2 separate regions of the Homo sapiens genome follow, and region 2 is linked to region 1. A link means that fine-mapping ties the variant in region 1 to the expression of a gene that starts in the linked region. Tissue or cell type: whole blood. Region 1 holds a variant in brackets; the other region holds the start of a gene. All regions are shown on one strand. Distances are between the middles of the regions.

What was found. PIP is the estimated chance that this variant, and not a neighbour inherited with it, causes the effect.
Region 2: it holds the start of XKR3, and the variant in region 1 is fine-mapped to the expression of XKR3 in whole blood (INTERVAL, PIP above 0.99).

The regions. Positions count from the first base shown.
Region 1 is chr22:16,747,492-16,755,675 of GRCh38, reverse strand. LINC01665 (long intergenic non-protein coding RNA 1665) reads left to right here and starts at 7,238. Exons shown (of 2, transcript NR_134584.1): 1 at 7,238-7,400; 2 at 7,937-8,184. RefSeq lists a silencer at 4,171-4,371. The variant C/T (reference allele first, on the strand shown) is at 3,923.
Region 2 is chr22:16,821,583-16,829,766 of GRCh38, reverse strand. It overlaps XKR3 (XK related 3), which reads left to right and starts at 4,356. Exons shown (of 4, transcript NM_001386955.1): 1 at 4,356-4,476. It also overlaps the pseudogene HSFY1P1.

The sequences.
Region 1 (8,184 bases):
TCTGTGTTCTGGGACAGCGTGCACTGTAGGTGTGTGGAAATACCGATGCCCTCAGCTGTGTGGCAGGCTCAGTGGGACCTGAAGTGCAGGAGCCCCTGGGCCATTCACCTCTGGCCACAAAAGTCATTGCCCATTTACCCCCAACTGCTATAGAAATATTATTTTCAGTGGTTGTTATGATGCTAAAGAAGCAGGGAGATTTATTAAACCTTTACATATAAGTTATGTTAGTAAATAAAGTCTACTTTCTTCTGGCTTAACTAAAAATCTATACTAGTATTTATGCATTTTGGAAAATAAAGATGCCAATTTAAATATTATGAAGCAAAGCAACTGAGTATTAGGTAAGACAGCCAAGTACAACTGCAGAATTATAGAGGTTATGTGTTACATGTATAAGAATATTTCATAGCAATAATCTTTTGAGACTATGTGAAGACACTCCACAGTGAAGCAGAAATTAGAACAGAATTAATAATACTGTGTATGCTCTCAGTTCACCAATTTATCAAAACTAACTTTATAATTCAGGAGGCTGTCTGCTCTTTTGCAATTGGAAGAAAAGAAATAATATTTTATTTTTCAACTCTTTAGATTTTCTTCATTAAGAGTATTTCCAAAGCTAAGTAAGGGAGTTGCAAGTAGCACCAAGAGAAAAAAGCAGTCTTGAGCAGCTTTTAAAAAATGGTCTTAAAATATGGAAAATGGAGCCAGGTGTGGTGGCTCACTCCTGTGATCCCAGCACTTTGGGAGCTTGAGGTGGGAGGATTGCTTGAGCTCAAAAGTTTGAGACCAGCCTGGGCAGCATAGCAAGATCCCCATCATTACAAAAAATAATAATTTTTTTTTAAATTAGCTGGATGAGGTGGTGCATGCCTTAGAGTCCCAGTTACTTGGGAGGCTGAGGTAGGAGGAGTTCTTGAGCCCAGGAGTTCAAGTCTGCAGTGAGCTACAATTGCATCAGTCCTCAAGCCTGGGCAACAAAGTGAGACCCTGTCTCTCTCTACAAATAAATAAATAAATAGTGGTCTTCACTGATAAACTGACTAATGAAACAGAATAGAGAATTCCCAAACAAATCTCCACAAATTTAATCTTTGATATGTGATGTAGGTGACATGGCAGATCAACAAGGAAAGAAAGGACATTTCAATAAATAGAATAGAAAAATAATGGTTATTGATATAGGAAACAAAATGAAATTATATTCCTGCTTCACTCTATATACAAACATTAAATTCCAGAGGACCAAAGACTTACATGTCAGAAACAAAACTTTAAAACTTTTAGTAGAAAATGTAAGTGAATGAGACACAAAAAGCCATTTAACCATTAAAAAAGATTAGACATTTTGACTATCACAAAATTAAGAACTTTTTACATCAAAAAGTGGAAAGATAGGCTGGGCACAGTGTCTCAAGCCTGTAATCCCAATAGTACATCACCTGAGGTCAGGAGTTTGAGACCAGGCTGGCCAACATGGTGAAACCCCATCTCTACTAAAAATACAAGAAATTAGCTTGACATTAGTGGCAGACACTTGTAATCCCAGCTACTTGGGAAGCTGAGGCACGAGAATCATCTGAACCCAGGAGGTGGAGGTTGCAGTGAGCCACGGCACTCCAGCCTGAATAACAGAGCTAGACTCTGTCTCAAAAAAAAAAAAAATAGAAATTAAAAAATAAAAGTAACAAAGTGAAAAGATAAACTGTAAATTAGAAGATATTTGCAGTACCTAAAACCTATGAAAGATTACAACCAGATCAACTAAGTATAAGGAGCTCCTATGAATTAATTTTAAAAATAGCAACCCAACAGAAAATTGGGAAAAGACATCAATAGGGATTTCACAAAAGAGAAAGCCCGCAAAATGTAAAAAAATTTCTCAACCTCATTAGTAATCAGGAAAATGCACAAGATACTACACATCTATTCTCCCCACAATTATTAAGAAGTTTGACAATACCAAATGTATTAGTCCACATTCATACTGCTGATAAAGACATACCTGAGACAGGGAAGAAAAAGAGGCTTAATTGGATTTAGGTTTTCACATGGTTGAGGAGGCCTCAGAGTTATGGCTGTCAGTGAACAGCACTTCTTACATGGCAGTGGCAAGAGAATATGAGAAGGAGGCAAAAGAAGCAAAAGACGAAACCCCTAATAATCCCATCAGATCTTGTGAGATTTATCCACTATCACAAGAATAGCATTGGAAAGACCAGCCCCAAAGATTCAACTACCTCCCCCTGGTTCCCTCCCCGAACAAGTGGGAATTCTGAGCAATACAATTCAAGTTGAGATGTGGGTAGGGACATAGTCAAACCATATTTTTCCACTCCTGGCCCCTCCAAATCTCATGTCCTCTCCAAACCTCATGTCCTCACATTTCAAAACCTATTATGCCTTCCCAACAGTCCCCCAAAGTCTTAACTCATTTCAGCATTAACCCAAATGTCCACTGTCCAAAGTCTCATCTGAGACAAGGCAAGTCTCTTCTGCCTATGACCCTGTAAAATCCAAATCAAGCTAGTTACTTCCTAGATACAGTGGGGGTACAGGTAATTGAGTAAATGCAGCTGTTCCAAATGGGAGAAATTGGCCAAAACAAAGGGGTTACAGGCCCCATGCAAGTCTGAAATCCAGCAAGGTAGTCAAATTTTAAAGCTCCAAAATGATCTCCGTTGACTCCATGTTTCACATCAAGATCATGCTGATGCAAGAGGTGGGCTCCCACCACCTTGGGTAGTTCTGCCTCTGTGGCTTTGCAGGGTATAGCCCACCTCCTGGCTGTTTTCATGGGCTGATGTTGAGTGACTGCAGCTTTTCCAGGCTCACAGTGCAAGCCATCAGTGAATCTACCATTCTGGGGCCTGGAGGAGAGTGGCCCTCTCCTCACAGCTCCACTAGGAAGTGCCCCAGTAGGGACTCTGTGCAGGGGCTCCAACCCCACATTTCCCTTCTGCACAGCCCTAGCAGAGGTTCTCCATCAGAGCCCCACCCCTGCAGCAAACTTCTGCTTGGACATCCAGGTATTTTCATACATCCTCTGAAATCTAGGTGGGGGTTTCCAAACCTCAATTCCTGACTTCTATGCATGTGCAGGCTCAACACCACGTGGAAGCTGCTAAGGTTTGGTGCTTGCACTCTCAAGGCCATGGCCTGAGTTCTATATTGGCCCCTTTCAGCCATGGCTGGAGGGGCTGAAACACAGAGAACCAAGGCCCTAGGCTACACACAGCACAGTCAACCTGGGCCCAGCCCAGAAAGCCATTTTTTCCTCCTAGGCCTCTGGGCGTGTGATGGGAGGGGCTGCTGTGATGACCTGTGACATGTCCTGTAGAAATTTTCCCCATTGTTTTGGGGATTAACATTCAGCTTCTCGTTACTTACGCAAATTTCTGCAGACTGCTTGAATTTATCCTCAGAAAATGGGATTTTCTTTTCTATCACATTGTCAGGCTGCAAATTTTCCAAACTTGTATGCTCTGCTTCCTTTACAAAACTGAAGGCATTTAGCATCACCCAAGTCACCTCTTGAATGCTTTACTGCTTAGAATTTTCTTCCAGCAGATAACCTAAATCATCTCTCTCAAGTTCAAAGTTCCACAAATCTCTAGGGCAGGGGCAAAATGCTGCCATTCTCTTTGCTAAAACATAATGAGAGCCACCTTTGCCCCAGTTCCCAACAAGTTCCTCATCTCCATCTGAGACCACCTCAGCCTGGACCTTATTGTTCAAAACACTATCAGCATTTTTGTCAAAGCCATTCAACAAGTCTCTAGGAAGTTCCAAAATTTCCCACCTTTTCCAGTGTTTTTCTGAGCCCTCCAAACTGTTCCAACTTCTGCCTGTTACCAAGTTTCAAAGTCACTTCTACATTTTTGGGTATCTTTTCAGCAGCACCCCACACCACTGGTAT[C/T]CATTTACTGTATTAGTCCATTTTCACACTGCTGATAAAGACATACCCAAGTCTGAGAAGAAAAAGAGATGTAAAGAAAAAGAACTGCAACTGGATTTGCAGTCCCACATGGTGGGGGAGGCCTCAGAGTCATGGCAGGAGGTGAAAGGCACTTCTTAAATGGCAGCAGCAAGAGAAAATGAGGAGGAAGCCAAAGCAGAAACCCCTGATAAACCCATCAGATCTCATGAGACTTATTCACTGTCACGAGAATAGCACAGGAAAGACTGGCCTCCATCATTCAATTACCTCACCCTGGGTCCCTCCCACAACATGTGGGTATTCTGGGAGATAGAATTCAAGCTGGGATTTGGGTGTGGACACAGCCAAACCATATCACCAAATAGGGAGAGACTGTGGATCAACAAGATCATCTCAAACTAATACAGGACGTGAGTGTTTAAATGAGAACAACCACTTTAGAAAACAATTTGGATTATCTTATAAAGTTGAGCATTCTCATATGTTACGGCAAAGTAATTTCTCTACTATAGGCCCTGGAGAAACTCTTGCCCATATGTACCAGAAGTATTAAAAAAAATGCTCATGTAATGCCATTCATAATAGCAAATATATGGAAACAAGCCAGATGTTCATTGATAGGAGAATGGGTAAATTAATAGGAGAATGGGTAAATAAATTATACCCTTAAAAAACTAAATAATATGCCATTTAGGGCAATCATATATATGCAATAAAACAATGTTTTTTTAAAGGCAGGGAATCCTAAACATAAATTCAGGGTAGTAGTTACCCTGGGGCTGAAGGGTGTAAATCAGGAAAAAGGACAGAGGAGGAGCAGATGTTAGGTCAGAACCCTAGTTCTTGGGTTGTGTTGTGGGTTCACAAGTGATTACCACATTATTCAAATACATTTACATAGAGGCCCAGGCACAGACAAGGGTGAAACAGGAGCCAAGGTATGCTATGAGCCAAGGAATATGATTAATCAAATTTTGTGCACTTTAAACCATTTGAAAAACAGAAAAGCAAAACAAGAAGATAAATTTTAACAAATTGAATATAGAGTGCTATGTTCTGAATGTGTCCCCCTAAAATTAATCACAGTGTTATAGGATTAGGAAGTAGGGCCCTTAGGTAGTGATTCAGTCATGAAGGGAGAATCTTCACGAATGGGTTTAGGGTCCTTACACAAGGACTGGAGGGAGTGGGCTTCCCCTGTTTTGCCCTTCTGCCTTCTGCCATGTGAGGGCACAGTGCATCTCCTCCTGAGGACAGAGTGCACAAGGTACCATCTTGGATGCAGAGGTCAGGCCCTGACCAGACACCAATCCTGCTGGCACCTGGATCTTGGACTTCCAGCCTATGGAACTGTGAGAAATACATTTCTCTTCTTCAGAAATTACCCAGCCTAGTGTATTTTCTTATATAGTAGCACAAACTCATTAAGGCATAATGCTTCTTGTCATTTTCTTCTACAATTTTCTTTGTTGCCTCTTTAGCAGTGGGTCATTTTATATTTGATCCTTCATAATATCTCTTACTTTTGGTTTTTCACATTTCTGTTCCAAGTGTATTCTTAGATACATATTTTTCACTGTTTGTTATTATCCAGGTCAGAAAGTCCAGGATACATTTTTTTAAGGGTTTGGTTTCTGCAACAATGAAGTATTAATGCCTTCTGTAAACTAGGTATTTCCTTTCCAATTGTAACTGCCATCTGGAAGCAAAGTGGAATTACAGGCTATGAGTGTGGGGTTGATATTTAGTGTATCTAGAGTATGGTTAAATGCTGGTTTTTAATCACACGGATACATCGATTGCTTGGCACACTAGGGTATCAGTTGCTAGTTATCTCTGTATTTATCCATGCTGTTACAGAGGGAAAGTACAGACCGTGAGGTTGGACCAGCTGTCATACCCATATTTGGGGAGCTTTGATTTTTTTAACCTTCAGCTGCTTTACTGTCACACGTAGCAGCTCAGGTGAAAAGCACTTTTATTGTGGGGACTTTCCCTTAGTGCTCTGTGGGGCACAAGAGCAGACCTATGTAGAAGCATTAAGTATTTTGTGCATCAACAGGACAATTAAAGGAACAAATTCTTATTGTATCTTTTAGTCCCTGAAGACAAAACCACAGTGACAGTAACTAGGTCAAGGCATTGTATTCAGAGAGGGTCAGCCTTGGTCTTTGAGAGTGAGTCCCCTTTACCCCACTGTCAAGACTCACTGAGCAGACGGGAACGTTCAGGTGGAACATGCAGTGAATAGCAAACACGGTGGGGGGCGCTCACTGTCATGCACTGCCATGCCTGCCATGGTCAGCAGACCTCTTCTACTTGACAACAGGCAGGTTGAGAAACATTTTCTTGGAGAGTTTCTTGATTCTTGCCAGTTGTGGCAGGATGGATTGACTTAGAGGAGCTCAGGAAGGTTGTTAAACAACACAGAAACACAAGATGAATTGTACTCCTCAGCAGGCCTAGGTTAGAGCAGCAGGTGCTTGAAGCCTCAGCCACTCGTGGGACACAACATAATGCCCCTAATGATTTGAAATTTGGTGGAGAGTGGGTCACTAATCCCTGTGTCCAGGGACAAAAAGAGACATCAACAGCAAAAAGTTATAAAATAAGTGGGACTAACATCTGCTTCTTGTGGGAGGTAGGAATTTAAGATATAAGAATTTAGCTGCAGGAGCGAGCTCACACCTGTAATCTCAGCACTTGGGGAGGCCAGCGCAGGAGGACAGTTTGAGCCCAGGTGTTTGACATGAGCCAGGCAACGTAGTAAGTCCCCATTCGTACAAAAATGTTTTTGGAGAAAAGTAGTTGAGTGTGGGGGCACATGCCTGTAGTCCCAGGTACGTGGGAGGCTGAGGCAAGAAAATTGCTTCAGCCTGGGAGATTGAGGCTGCAGTGAGCTCTGATCACCACAATGCACGCCAGCCTGTGAGTCCGGAGACCCGAGCTGGCGCCTTGAAGCGGGGTCCCCTGCACCGGTAGAAGTCGGCTCAAGGAGGTTCTGAGAACAGGACTCCCGGGGGTCCGGCCCTGGAGGACCCGAAGCCCCCAGTCCCATAAACGCCCCCTACTACATCCCCACTCCAGCCGCCACTGCGACTGCCACAGAACCCCCGCCACGTGTCGCCGAACCTGTTTAAAGGGGCCACAGCCGGAGTTTGAAGAGCAAAGCAGGAGTCGGCCTGGGCAATGCGCATGCGGGAGGCACGAGCCCATTCTCCCGTGACGGTGACTCCAACGGTTGGCTGAGGACGATTCCCTGAGCCTTGACAAAGCAGGAGCCCTCCGTGGCAGTGCGTCGGGGTCGAGGCTCCAGCCTGACCAATCCAGGGGGTCGACAAAACAGATTCGGGACACCATGCTACACGCAGGGCCTACCAGGATGCAGAAACAGCAGACGGAGTCCGGGGAAAGCAGTGCGGCATCCCAGCCTCAGGCCTGCCCGTACGGTGTTCGGGTGAGTTCCCCCAAAGCCGTGCCCCCCGTGATCTCGAGGACAGGTCTGCCTGTGTGCCCAAGGACTACTGTCTCACCCGAGGGTCATTCTCCCAAAGAGCAGAAACCCGCAGCCTCAGTGATTGCCTGGGGGTTGTGTCTCTCTGCCACTGCTGTATGTCTGGGTGCCTGTGTCTCCCATTCTCTCTTCTCTCTGTCACTCACTCTCTGTTTCTCTGGCTTTCTCTGTCTCTGTGCGTGTGTGCCCGTGAGCGTGTGTGTTTCTGTGCCCAGTGCGCTACAAAGCGGTCTCTTGCATGTCAGCGTGTCTTTAGTGGGCCTCTGTCTGCGACTCTGCCTGGGTCATGTGGGCGGTTGTCAATCATTTCCACGGCGGTTCCACTTTGGCTTTCTGAAGACCTCGACAATGTGAGAAGCTTCGGTCTCAAAGAAACCGAAATTTCATCCCGATCCTGAGCTACCTCTTTTGTAGAATCAAGATGACCACACTCCAACCAAAAAAAAAAAAAAAGGTACAAGGAGCTCATTGTTTTCCAGGAGGGGAGGAGACCAATGTGAAAGGAGATGGTTATATCTCCTCGCGGCTCTTCTCTGAGAAATGAAGCCAGGATACGAAACAATCTTCAAGAAGAAGCTGAAAACCGGATATGACAAGGATGTCCCCAGAACACAGCAGGCATCCTGAAGCTCTGCCTCCTGAAGCTCCCCCTCCCTCGGTGGAAGTCGGCTCAGGGAGGTCCTGAGGACAGGACTCCTGGGGGTTTGGCTGCAGAATGAATTAATTC
Region 2 (8,184 bases), 74 kb before region 1:
CTGGCGAACAGGCTAGTTATTGTGTGAGTGGGCTTTGGAACCAAGGATGAGTTTGGCCCTGATTTTCTGTTTATCACATGTCCTTTACCGTAGGATGGCCTCCTGCCATGTTGCAACATAGAAAGAAGATCTCACCAGATGCAGCCCCTTGGACTTTCCAGCCTTCAGAATAATGAGCAAAATAAGTCACCTTACAAATTACCCAGTCAGTGGTATTGTGTTGTCGCAGCAGCAAATGGACTAAAACACTCTATTATTTCTTCCTCTTTAGATAATTAAATAAACTAGCTTACAAAGGGCCATGTCAAATTTCCCATCAAATGATAAAAAAGCACATATTTTTTTTTAAATGCGGTACAGTAGCCTGCCACTAAAACAAAGCCCCATTTTACTCCTAACTGTATTTTTAGAAATAAAGGAAAAGCAACCATAAAGGTCAACATGTAATTTTATTGTTCAGTAAGATTATTGCAGGAATTTTTAATGTTCTTGTCAACATAAATTTCAGTCTCTGTTGTCATGCATAATCTGGTACTCTTTTGGTGGAAGATCAGTTGTAACTAGGGTGATATTTTTCCAGTAAAGATGGTTGAAGAGCTGGCCTGTAACGAAAGGCAACTGATGTATCAGCTGTCGCAGTCATTTACAACCACAGGTTGCCTGCTGGTAGCAGGTTAGAATGAGGAGCCTCATTGGCTAATACCTCAGGATATCTGGTGGGAAAAAGTAGGTGGTTTCACTATCAGCCCCAAAGGAGGGAGATATGATGTAGTATTGAGAAGCTGTGGTTGTAACAAAATTCACAACGTGGCCATTTGCTTACATGTCGGTGCTATGAGAGTGCATATGAATATTTGTCAATTGATTTAAAATAGCATGTTGATTTGTTGTAATTTGTTCTGATTGTCCAACTGAGGTTGAAATGGAAGAGGAGGGAAACCACTTCTAATTGGGTCAGGTGAACCAGCAATGCCCTGGCTGACAGAAGATTTCCTTGTTAGAGTCATATTTAAATTTGTAGATGTTGAAAATGAACTTTCTTCACTAGTTTCAGCAGCTAAGACAGAATTATGTTTATCTGTGTTAGCCCCTGCTCTAAAGTGTTTCTTGAAATATTCAGTGAAGTAGATACAAGAGAAGTGTTTTTAATCTTAATTCTTCTTTTCGTTCTTATTAAAAGTTGGGGACAGCCACGTTTGAAATTCGGATGATAATACAACTTTAACTAAAACCAAGGAGAAGGTAATTCAGTGCCATTTTAAACCAAGAGGCAAGTAACAATAACAAACATAACCCATACAATCTCAGATTTCTGTTTTATCACACAAAGTTAATATCATCAAATAATGAATGAACATTGTTTACTATTTTTAAGAACATGCTTGTTGAGAAAAAAAAACACTCAAGTTTTGAAGCCCTCTGGTGAAAACATGTTATACATTTAATAGTAACATTTCACTAAGTGGCTTTGGTATCTTTATTTGGAGTTCACTGGTAAGACTGAATGTTGTTAGCAACATTTCTTAAAACCTGAAAGTTTAATGCTCAACCTGCACTCAATAATTTCAAAAAAATTAAGTAATTTTTACCTTAATATTTGATATAATTTTTAAAATCTGATCTTACTGCATGTATTAACATAGTTACTGATATATAAAATGAAATTACATATATACTCAAAGTGGTAACTGAAATATTTTGAATACCTTGCTTAAAACAGAAATTTCTTTTTCTTCTGCCAGAAAGTTGGCTAGAAAAGCAGATCTGTGAAAATTCTGTTGAATTTTACTAAATCCATAAAGGTTGAGCTGTCAAATTAAGATTTTCATACTGTCAGTTTGAAATATTCTGTAAGGAGCCTTTATTTCCAAATTTTCTTTCTTGAAGAGTTCTTCATTAGTCACTATGCAAGTTTCATTCTTATCCTATGAATTAGACTTGAATTGGTCACTTTCAGCTATTTTCCAAAGTTTACTGGGAAAGGTCAGAGAAGGAAAATCATTATCTTTATCTGGCTCAGAGACATAAAGTATAATGTGGCCTTTTTATCAAGGATCCTTGTGGCAAAACCTGAAAATCATTGATTCAGTCATTGACCTTAAGTCTGAATCCCCAGGGATTATGTGTTCACACAATGGAGACCCAGAGGAGGCTTTTGAACCAGTTGATTCATCTTTAGGAGAAACATCTTGAGTTTCTGCAGAAACATGTGCCATCTCAAATAAGTAATTCTTTAGCGACTTTTCCAGCCTGCATGTGTTTCAAGACTGCAGCTTCAAATGCTGCTTCAGTAGTCTACTCAGGTAAAGTAATTGAGATCACCACAGTGGTTTCCAACCTGAGTAGCAATGGCATCACAAGAGGACTTTGGTCACCTAGCAACAAACATAAAAATTTGGCCAAGACTGTTTACTTTCCAGTCTCAGAAATGTATCTGGTAAAAATAAAATATAGAATGATTACTTACACAGTTTATTCTGCAAAAGTTTCATGCCTGCAGAATCTTTTAAATTAATAAGGAGGGCCAGGCATGGTGGCTCATGCCTGCAATCCCAGCGCTTTGGGAGGCCGGGACAGGCGGATCATGAGGTCATGAGTTCGAGACCAGCCTGACCACCATGGTGACACCCTGTCTCTACTAAAAATACAAAAATTAGCCAGGTGTGGTCCATGTGCCTGTAGTCCCAGGTCTCGGGAGGCTGAGGCAGAAGAATCGTTTGAACCCAGGAGGCGGAAGCTGCAGTGAGCTGAGATTGTGCCACTGCACTCCAGCCTGGGCAACAGAGCAAGACTCTGTCTTAAGAAAATAATAAATAAATAAATAAATAAATAAATAAATAAATTAATTAATATCCTCAATCCCTGAAATAAACATAATTTTCTCCTTGACACACACAGTCTTACTAGATTGGTGCGAGGAGCATAGGGCCTGGTAATTGGACGGTGCAAAAAAATAAAAATAAATATTTTAAAAACTCTCTCAGCTTGGCATGTTGGATTGAAAACTGATGCAGTGTAAAACATATATGGTAAAAAGACATGGCCATATAGACAAAAGGTAGGTTAATGGTTGTCAGGGGCTGGGGAATAGAAAGAACTGTTAAGTAGATAATGGGGTTTCCTGTTTGATGATAGAAATGTTTTAATAATATAATTTTGAATAATGTAATTTTGTATTATGTGAAACATACCTTAAAAAATTAAAATAAAATCAAATATGAATAAAACTGATTAGATTTCAGAATAAAAAGTTATTCATGTATGTATCTATTCAAAACATTTTTTATTCATATCATAGAATAAATAATACTTTCATTTGGTATGTCTGTAAATATCTGACATGTTAATTATGTAAGATTTTAAAAGCAAGTGACCTACTTATAAGGAGATCCCAAAGAGTGGGAGATTTAAAAATGTAATAATAACAAGAAAGTGTTTTAAGTAAAGTAAATTTGTATGTATGTCTAAGCAGAAAATTTTATTATTTGGTTCCAAGAGCCAAATATCTATTTAAAAAATATTTCTTAAGGAATAATCTCTGTGTCCTGCAACGTAAAGTTATCATTATAAAACAGGAGTCAAATTTGTGAATTAATCTTAGAATTGAATAAAATATTTCTTCTCTTTGAAAAATAATCATGCCCCATTTACAGTAAGAATTTTTATATGTTCATGCTTGAGAGGTGGTATATTAAAATTCTAATGCCTTGGCTTTAAGTGTTGAATATGTGTGGAATAAAAAAATAATGATTTTGATATTTCTTATACTGTAGGAGGCAGTTCTCTCATACTGGAAAGAGGTGTCATTGTTAGAAGCTTGTCTTGGTTTAACATAGTTTAAGTTTTGGGGGTGTATTTTGTTTAGTTCAAAATTTTCCATATTAGCAGTAAGTAACAAAAATGTCCAGATCAGAAAACTCTTTGTGAAAATAAAACAGGTGCTCCTACCAGATGTGGTTCATCAATTTTGACAGAATTTTCATTTAAAAAAGGCAAAATTAAAATTTGTTTAATTGTTTGCTTTCTGGGGAATTTTCTTGTTGCTCTGTCTGAAGGAAGTACAGACTTCTTTTGTGATGGGAGGGGATGAATGGCTACTAGACAGCAGCAAAAGATGGGCCATGGGTGCGAAGAGAAGAGGGAGTTAATGGGAGAATCAGAAAAATATCACCTTAAATGTAGGACAATCGAAGTCAAATTGTGGCTGAGCGTTTTGGGGAACTAAGATGTGTGACTCTGTAGGGAGGAAGAATGCCTTGGTGTTTTCAAGGGAAGATGACTCAGCTAGTGCAGTCACCTGACTCCAAACTGCAAGCCTACTTTAGTCATAAAAAGGCAAGAAAATAAGCAATTTTACCTGCAAAGCAAAGGACGTAGTGTTGAAAACGAGACCAGAAATGGTGCTGTTAAAGAGGTGAACAAAAGCATTTACTTTTTGAACGAGTTTCAAAACTGTGAGGGTGGCAAATAGGCAAGGTAAGTAGGAGCAGCCCTCGACCATCTCAGATCAGCTTCTTCAGCCTACCTTGACCTCTGCCTGTCTCAGCTGGGGATCTTAACATAAATCTCTGGATATCAGGGGTGGCTTTTCCCGAGTCTTGAGCCTAGAAACTCCCTCTCTTGATTCTGATTTTCAGAGAAGAGAAGCAGCTGCTTAGCATTTGGGTGGGACAGTGGTTGTTACTAATATATTACAAATTTCAGCATGTTTTTAAACATCAGAAGGAGAAAGTGCTTCGTATTTAAGTGAAATCTCAAAGGGGCAGAAATCTACCATATTTTTTGTTATTCAGATGCAGTGATGCACTGGCTATGTGAGTACAAGAAACAAGTTCACTTAATCACAAACACATGCCTAAATTCCATTGTTCAGTGACTTCACTTTCACTTTCTACCTTGAATTTTAGACTCTGGAAGACCCATTTCTAAACTCTGTGGCCCTTTTCATATGTGCATATTTTCATAAGTGTTTTCCAGAAATAAATTATAGAGGTCCTTCTGTGAGTCCAAAGGAGAAGGAAGTGGTTGGGGCAGCCAGAAAGGTGCAATCTGCATTAATATCATATTCGATGTATGGATTGCTGGGGAGAGAGTGGGATATATTTCTTATAATGTTGGATGTATTTTTCCCCTATCCTGAGGCCCAGAAACTCTGATGTCTCTGCAGTTGTCTTTCCATGCTTTCCTTTATACCCCTCGCCTACTTCTGTAATTTCTCTCTCTACTCTCCCTCCTCCTTCCCACCCTTTTTCTTTCCATTTGTGCTCTCTCCCTCCATTCCTTCTTTTTCCCTTTTCTTTCTTTTTGTGGGTATCTGGTAGCTGCAACTTATTTTCTTTCTGCTTTTCTTACTCACTTACTCTATTTACTAGGTATTTAACAATTGTCTTTAAAAGTAACATCCTTTCTTTCTTAAAATTTTATCCCTAATGGACATTATTTGGGGAAAAACATTTTTATGGTGCCTCTAGATAAGTAATTATATCATCTGCACATGATTCCCGTATTTTCTTACATGCCCGTTCCTCGTAGGTGGAAATGGGTACTTCATTGTACTCTTCTCTCTTTATTTACAAGAGTGTTTTTTCTGTCTCATCCCTTTAAATAACACATTGTCTCTCTTTTTGTGACATTGAATTAATTAGGTCAGATGCGATTTTTCTCATCTATTCATTTGAAGACTGTTTCATATTGCTTCTAGGGCCTATTTGCAAGCAACAAATTATTTTGTTGTTGTTGTTGTTTTGTTTTGTTTTTTAATTTTTGGACCATTTGTCTCATCACTCCAACAAGCAAGAATTAGTTCTCATCATTAAGATCCCTTCAAGATTTCATTCACTTGTTTCAGCAGCCTTGAATTATCATCACCTGGACCTGTTGTTACATCAAGAATCTCTCATTTCTAATGTTCTACTTTGGACACTGTTACCTGTGAGTTTGTTTACATTAAAAAAAAAAAACCTTTTAGTACTTGAGTACCCTAAAGTTTCATATTTTGAATTGGTGTCAGATTTATTATTATTGATCTCTCCATTGCTGGAGAAAACTAAGCAATAGGTAAACTCTATTCTTTTGGTAATTTGTATTTTCTGAATGTTTCACAGTAAATGTTTACTAGTCTTGTGATGCTGCAAATTGGCAATCAGATATATTTTAAAGTGACAAGGTTGCCCTGTTCATCACCAGTTCTGTACATCACGCAGATCAAAAGTAAGGTGTTTAAGTTTATTTTAAATGTTTTTCCCAAAAATTCTGCTTCCACCACTTTTCCAAGCTCTACCAGATGGATACTCAAGAATTGACCAAGGCAATCTCTTCTCTCATATTTCACTGTCAAATACTCTTAATCAGTGAGTCCTGTCAATTCTGTGTTTCTAAGAAATGATGATGGTGGTCATGATTATAATGATGTCAATAGGAACACCTTTCCAAACTTCACTGTGTACCACGAACTCTTCTTCCTGCTGCCGATGTATTATTTTCTCTACACTGCTATCTCCCCAGGAAGATTCTAATGATGTTATCATTGTACAGATGTGGAAACTGTAGCTTATGAGGTTTTAATTTTGCAATTCAAGGAAATGACAGGATTCTGGCAGTGTGGTAGCTCATGCTTGTAATCCCAACACTGGAAGGCTGAGGCAGGTGGATCACTTTAGCTCATGAGTTTGAGACCAGGAAGATGGTCAAACCCCATCTCCTCAAAAAACACAAAAATTAGTGTACATGGTGGCATGCACCTGTGGTCCCAGCTACTTGGGAGGCTAAGGCAGGAGGATCATTTGAGTCCTGGAGGTTGAGGCTTCAGTGAGTCTAGGTCACGCCACTGCACTCCAACCTGGGTGACAAGGGCAGATCATGTCTTAAAAAATAAACAAATAAATACCCACCACAACCAAAAGCAAAGGAAGCAAGCATAATAAGCTAGTTAATATGCTTGTTAGCAATGTGGACATTTATTTTATAGTTAAAAGAAAAAAATAGAAGTGACAGTATTGTAACTCAGAAAGTCTGGTTCCAGAGTTTGTACTGCTAACCAGAACAACTTGAGCATCAGTTGATATTTTCCATTTTTTTTGCTCTACTTTGTCTGATATTAATATAGCCATTCCAGCAGTCTTATCACTAGGGTTAGTAGTGCACAGCTTTATTCCATCTCTTCCGTAGTAATTGTGTCTTTATGTCAAGTATGGGTTTCCAGGAGACAACATATAACTGGATTTTACTATTTTTATTTCTCTTATAGGCTTTACCTTTTAGTTGTGGTATATAAGCCATTTACAGTTAATGTGCTGATTGATGTAGCTTTCTGTTTTCTCCATGTGTTACTTGTTCCATTTTCTCTTATCTGTCTTCTTTTCTATTATTTATTTATTTTTTTAATTTCCTATTATGGCCTTTGTTGGTTTCTTAGCTGTTACTGTTACTTTAGTTCTTGCTTTGAGGTTTGTAGTGTACATCTCAAATTTACCACAACCTACCTTGAAGAGGTATTACACTTCTCTATGGACAATGTTAAAACACTAAAATAACATGTACCATTATCCCCTCTCAGCCTCTGTGCTACATGCATTTTTAAAATTATATAACCACAATATTTTATTATTTCAACAGTCAATTGCATTTTTCAAAGATTTGATTAAAGAAAAAAGTCTAAAATTAACATACAAAATTGCCATTTTCAGTTTTTGTCATTTTATAAGATCTATTATATCTTTGTGGCACCTATCACAGCCATTTGATAAATTAATTTGTAGATACAGTAAGAATGTCATGTATTTATTAAAGTTTTTAATAGTGATTTTAAAATTTCTTATTAGGTGGCAAAAAATAATAAAAATAAATGCCCAGAACGAGTATGTTATAAAACTAAACTGTAACTCCATGTAACAGCTATAGCATAGTTTGTTTGAACTGAAATTCACATAAAATAATCATATTGAAGTCCAAAAAATTTAAAGATGTAGTGTAAATTCAATTTATATGAAATTGAAGCACGAGGTTTCCTAGATACCTGCTGCCTACAGAGTTAGAATCTAATTCTTCTGATTATTCTTGTAACAAAATCTTTTGAAATTCTAAATTCTGATGCAGAACGTATCAGTGAAACTCCCTCCCACTGTCTCTTGTATTAGCATCAAGGAAGCGAGAAAAAATAAGGTAAAAAAAAATTCTGCTGTGTTT